2 linked regions of the Homo sapiens genome follow. The protein of the gene in region 2 purifies or fractionates together with the protein of the main gene of each other region. This does not show direct contact. Each region holds a gene or a part of one and is shown on either strand. Other genes may lie near its edges.

Evidence for each region. Proteins that work in one complex are often made in the same cells at the same time.
Region 1: the proteins of HP1BP3 (region 2) and LIN28A purify together in Homo sapiens (affinity purification with western blotting; 2 studies listed by BioGRID and IntAct, with this or other methods). This does not show direct contact.

Annotation. Positions count from the first base shown.
Region 1 is NC_000001.11:26,424,317-26,427,816, reverse strand, and holds part of LIN28A (protein lin-28 homolog A), read right to left. Parts: intron 2,515-3,500; coding exon 2,330-2,514; intron 1,576-2,329; coding exon 1,359-1,575; 3' UTR 1-1,358. UniProt on the Homo sapiens protein: RNA-binding protein that inhibits processing of pre-let-7 miRNAs and regulates translation of mRNAs that control developmental timing, pluripotency and metabolism.
Region 2 is NC_000001.11:20,739,766-20,742,307, forward strand, and holds the end of HP1BP3 (heterochromatin protein 1-binding protein 3), read right to left. Parts: 3' UTR 501-2,542; downstream 1-500. UniProt on the Homo sapiens protein: Component of heterochromatin that maintains heterochromatin integrity during G1/S progression and regulates the duration of G1 phase to critically influence cell proliferative capacity.

The sequences.
Region 1 (3,500 bases), 5.7 Mb from region 2:
ACCCGAAAATTTTGAAAGGTTAAGGATCTCACCTTACTTCATATATCCATCCCTCGACAGCACAGGATTAAGTACAGGGGTATTGGTCTTTAAACTTATCCTTAGCAACTCTAGTTTTACAAACACACACACACCCTGTGGCACATGGTAGGCCTAACCTAATCTGGTGAAGAACAGATCTGGAGATGTAAAGCACGTCCTGTGCCATAGGATTAGACAACCCTCACCTAATCTTGGCTTGCTCTCTGGCCTTTTCACCGGGCCCAGCCTCTCCTAGCCTCTGTGTACCACCATTTCCTGTTTAGACTAATTCCCAATCTTCCAGTAGAAGGCAATCAAGTCATGGGGCCACCCAGTTAAAACCTAGTCTCCCATAAAACATTTTCAAGGCAGAGGGGGTTTCAAGAGGACACTATGGCAGAAAAGCCAGCTCTTATTGGCAAAAATGAGGTAGTTCAATAGGCTGTGCACTCCAAATAGTTGCTCTCCACGGTGGCAAAAACAACAAAAAGTAATTCCTGCTGCGCAGACCTGGAGCTGCTGCTGGCTATCCCTGAGATTGCTCATGTACCTGAGAACACAGTGCAGGAAATGAGGGCCTTAGATTAAAATATACAAAAATACAAAACCAGAATATTTATATTAAGGAAAAAAAGTTAAAATGCACAAGATACGTCATTCGCACACAGCTAGTGCAGTTGGCATCCTGGAGAAAGTGGGACCCAAGGTGCAGTATCCAAGGGAGCAAATAAATAAAATCACATTGGCCCAGAATGGGGCGGGGGTGAGCATAGAGCAGCAGGTCTGCAGCTGTTCCCCCAAACACCCTTTTTGCCATCATCATTACCCATTGCTTGGGACAGCTGCCAGCACCCTATCCCAAAAGTGGGTATGAGGATACAAGATGTGAAAAAAAAACAATGCTTACTCCTGAGAGATCTCCTTCCACAGAATGTAGTGGCTTGGCTCCATGAATCTGGTCTTATACTTAATCATTTCACTCTGGCATGGGAATTATTATATATCCTTCTTTAAAAGGAAAACAACTTCCCTATCCAGGCCACTTTCAAAAGCTGGAAATTCTGGGGATGGAGACTCAAAGTATGCAGGTTGTAGGGTGATTCCCCCCTCCTGGTTGCCCCCAGAACCCTCACTTGCATTTGGACAGAGCATGGTTGGAGTTCCTTTGACTCACCCTTTCCCCCCACCTAGAGGGAAGAAAGGGTGATGGTGTGAACCCAAGCCTGAGATACATGGCAGTGCCAACTAGCCCCAATGCACCCTATTCCCACTTTCTCCACTCTGCCTGCTCCTCAAAACTTCCTGATAGCAAAAGAATAGCCCCCACCCATTGTGGCTCAATTCTGTGCCTCCGGGAGCAGGGTAGGGCTGTGGATTTCTTCTTCTTCCTCTCGAAAGTAGGTTGGCTTTCCCTGTGCACTAGGGCCCTGCTGGGCCTTCAGCGGACATGAGGCTACCATATGGCTGATGCTCTGGCAGAAGTGGCACTTCTTGGGCTGGGGTGGCAGCTTGCATTCCTTGGCATGATGATCTAGACCTCCACAGTTGTAGCACCTAGTACAAAGCAAGATCGTAAAAGTAAGAGAAAGGAGCAAGAAGAGGCCAGATGCCTCCCACGAATGAGGACACCTGGGCTCTGGTACAGGTTTGTCACTTACTTCCCTTCCCAGAGACCAAACTTCCCACTTGCAAAAGGAGGACTATTACTAAATGATCTCTAAGTCCTTTCCACATCTAATTGTCTAGGTGATCTCTTCAGATTCATGTCAACTTGAAAATACCAAGATACCAGAAATATAAGTTACTGACCCCAACTAGGAACTGCAACTTGGGGGATAGGAGAGATTCTTCCATACCCTTAATATAGGAGAAATTAAAGAAGCCAAATTATAGTATCTGTTCAGAGCTAAGGGGCTTTAAGCCCAAGCAAGATTAAGGAAACCAGCCATTTGCAGACCTGGTAAAGCAGCAACAGATATAGATAATACTGTCTTGTCCCACCATTTGCAAATCTATGATCTCCTTTAATTCTAAAACCATCCTAGGATGTTAGTATCACTGCCTCACTTAACAATTGAGGCTTAGAGACCACAGAGCAAACTTACTTGTCCCAAGTAGCACTAAGTCACCCCCAGTGGCCTCCTCACCTACTGCCCTTGCCCACACCTATTGCAGGCGCTCAGCCTTCCAGATGCTGCCAGGGACCACAGGCTTCCCTTTGTCTTTTGCAGTGTGACCCAAAAAGTGACAGGATTGGGAGACTGGGGATGCCCTTAGCAACCTATATAAGCTGCCTTCCAATCCATACCTGTCTCCTTTTGATCTGCGCTTCTGCATGCTCTTTCCTTTTGGCCGCCTCTCACTCCCAATACAGAATACTCCACCAGGTCCGGTGACACGGATGGATTCCAGACCCTTGGCTGACTTCTTAAAGGTGAACTCCACTGCCTCACCCTCCTTCAAGCTCCGGAACCCTTCCATGTGCAGCTTACTCTGGTGAAGGGAAATGCAGTAAATTTTAACATTAATTTCCATTATTATACCAAAAGACAAGGAACTCTTATTCCTGTAGGGTAGGAATCAAATGTGATGGTACTCCTATTTTACTGGTAAGGAAACTGACTCAAAGAGTCACTACGATTAAGAACAACAAAGTCTACCAGTACATTAACAAAAATCGTAATTATATAAGCAGATGCCATGACATTTTTGTAGCTATTCAGGTTTAAAGTTCTTAATAAAATAGAACAGAGGGCCGGGTACGGTGGCTCACACCTATAATCCTAGCACTTTGAGAGGCTGAGGCGGGAGGATCACCTGAAGTCAGGAGTTCGAGACCAGCTTGGCCAACATGGTGAAACTCTGTCTCTACTAAAAATAAAAAAAATTAGCTGGGCGTGGTGGCGGGCACCTGTAATCCCAGCTACTTGGGAGACTGAGGCAGGAGAATTGCTTGAACCCAGGAAGCAAAGGTTGCAGTGAGCTGAGATCACACTATTGCACTCCAGCCTGGGCGACAGAGTGAGACTTTGTCTCAAAAACAAACAAACAAACAACAACAAACAGAAAAATTTGTAAATACAAGCATTTGGAAGAAATCAACAAATATAAAATTACGAAATTTAAAGTGTCACACTATAGAGGTTGCAGTGAGCCAAGATGGCGCCTTTGCACTCCAGCCTGGGCAACACAGCAAGACTTCGTCTCAAAAATAAATAAATAAAATAAAAGTAAAAATAGCTGGGCATGGTGGCTCAGCCACACACGGTGGCTTACGCCTTTAACCCCAGCACTTTGGGAGGCTGAAGCAGGTGGATCACGAGGTCCAGAGTTCGAGACCAGCCTGGCCAACATGGTGAAACCCTGTCTCTACTAAAAATACAAAAATTAGCCGGGTGTGGTGGTGGGCGCCTGTAATCCCAGCTACTTGGGCAGTTGGGGCAGGAGAGTTGCTTGAACCCCGGAGGCAGAGGTTTCAG
Region 2 (2,542 bases):
GCCACACTGACTTGACTATTGGCAAAGTTGGCAATAATTTCATTTCCAAGCCCTCTGCTCTCTTAAACATGTGCTTGGCTGGGCACAGTGGCTCACACCTGTAATTCCAACACTTTGTGAGGCCAAGGCAGGAGATCAACTGAGGTCAGGAATTCGTAATATGCCTGGCCAACCTGGTGAAACCCTGTCTCTACTAAAAATACAAAAATTAGCTGGGCGTGGTGGCACATGCCTGTAGTCCCAGCTACTCGGGAGGCTGAGGCAGGAGGGTTGCTTGAACCCGGGAGGCGGGGGCTGCAGTGAGCCAAGATTACACCACTTCACTCCAGCCTGGGTGAAAGAGTGAGACTCCATCTCAAAAATAAAATAAAAATAGTATCTGTACAGAGCCCGATGTGGAAGAAGCTCAGCTAGTGTTAATCGTTATGACTATTACTACTTACATTAATAAGCCAAACTTACAACTATACTTTATGAGACATACTCTAGGCACCACAGAGTTCTCTTTTGCTAAGCAAAGATTTAATAGTGAACAGTGTTAATTATACATTATATACAATATCAGGAAAAAAAAGAGTTGTAATTTTTGAGGAAAATCGCTTCAGCCTTTTGAGGCCTCCTTTGACATACCAGTGGTTGACAAGACAGAATTAAGAACAGTTAAAACAGTTAAAAAGCTGATAAAATTAAATCATCAAAGGTAGAAAGTTTTCCAACAGGAAAAAAGCCACTGAAGTTAACAGTCTTGTGGAAAAGAACAGAAGAAAGAATAGGGCCAGGTATGGCGACTCACGCCTGTAATCCTGGCACTTTGGAAAGCCCAGGTGGGAAGATCACGTGAGGCCACGAGTTCAAGACCAGCCTGGGCAACACAGTGAGGCCCCATCTCTAGAAAAGATAAATTAGCCAGGCATTTATTAGCTTGCCTGTAGTCCTGGCTACTTGGGAGGCTGAGGTGGGGAGAACTGCTTGAGCACACGAGTTCAAAGCTGCAGTGAGCCAAGATCACACCACTGCGCTGCAGCCTTAGTGACACAGCAAACTCCATCTCAAAAAAATAATAAGTAAAAGAATATAGTTATAAAGACGGTAGAGATTAATTTCTTAAGAAAATAATGCAGCTGATTAGGGGTACTGTTTAACCATCTGTAATGGCTTCTAAACAAATCTTTGTCAAGTGGTTCCTAAGCCAAAACTTCAACAGTTCTGCTTCCTTGGCTTTGGCTCTGCAGAAGTGAGTGACCATCTGTTCCACCATGAAAATGCAAAAGCAAAATCTACATGCTAGAAAGTAATGTCAACCAGAACCTCTGGGGAAACAGTTTAATGGTCTTTTCCAATTAAGAATAGAATTTCTTTTCTTTCATAGCTAAAATTAGAATTTTTGCTTAATCCAAAGAAAGATAAATTAATCAGGTTCCAAAGATAGGAGACCTTAACTATAATCCCAAATTTTTAAAGTTTCTCTTAGTTAAATGCAGTATTTAATGAACATGGCTGGTGAGTTTCGTTCTCATGACGTATCAAGATGGCAAGAGGGTCACAGCCTGAGAGAGAATAATTTCACAGGCTCTTTAAAGTAAGTATTAATTAAGAATTGGTTAGCAAACCTTGACAAGGGCTAACAAAATTTGGAAAAACAGCAATGATGAAAAAACAAATGTCAAAAGGTGTTAGCAGATTGTTTAGTTTTGTTTTCATGTCATTTTCCTGTTAATTATACCCAAAAGACATGATTAAAACATACACCTGTTTCCTAAGATTTATACAGGACCAGGTTTCCTTTAATTAAGTCCATGTGGATGCATAGTCAGAATCCATGTGCAATGAATGCTTCTGTCATAGTGCTAAGGAAAGGTCTCCACATTTCTCAACAATAGTATCTTTCCTTCCTCATTTTGTAGGTTAAGAAGCCAACAATCTCTCTCCCAGCACTTTCTGAGACTCATTTATCAAAGGTAGCTTGTAGGTAGTTTCAGAGTGTATGAAACACTGTAAATGAGGTCACTAAGCCACCAACAGAGTACTGAAGCTATTGATCCATGCTAGAGATTTCTGGGATTACCTCTGGGGTTTGTTGTTCCCCTTTCTGAACATGGAAGTAAAAATTATAAATGTGTTCTGCTCCTTTGGAATGCCTGGAAGGGAAAAATCAAACATTCTTTTATCTCAATGTAAGTAAGGCGTATGTCTTTGACAGTTGTGGATGTTCGTGGAAGAGTGCGATGACCTTCCTGTCTTTTCCCTTTACATCACACTGAAACAAACTGTCCTTATAGTTAACAGAACGTTAGAGTTGGAAGAAACTTTAAATGATCTAAACTTCTCAGCCTGTGCTTAAGTGCCTGGTGTGCAATACAGCCACCAGGTGATTATTCAGTAAGTCTCTTTAAAAGCAGTATCATAAAGCAAAGAAACCAACCAAAATCTCCCAACTTTTGATTCCAGAAGAGTACAGAATTCTGAGCACAGGTACCTAACATCCATACTATTAAGAATCATTACTTGCTAGAGAGCACAGGAGTAATTACTACAATTACTT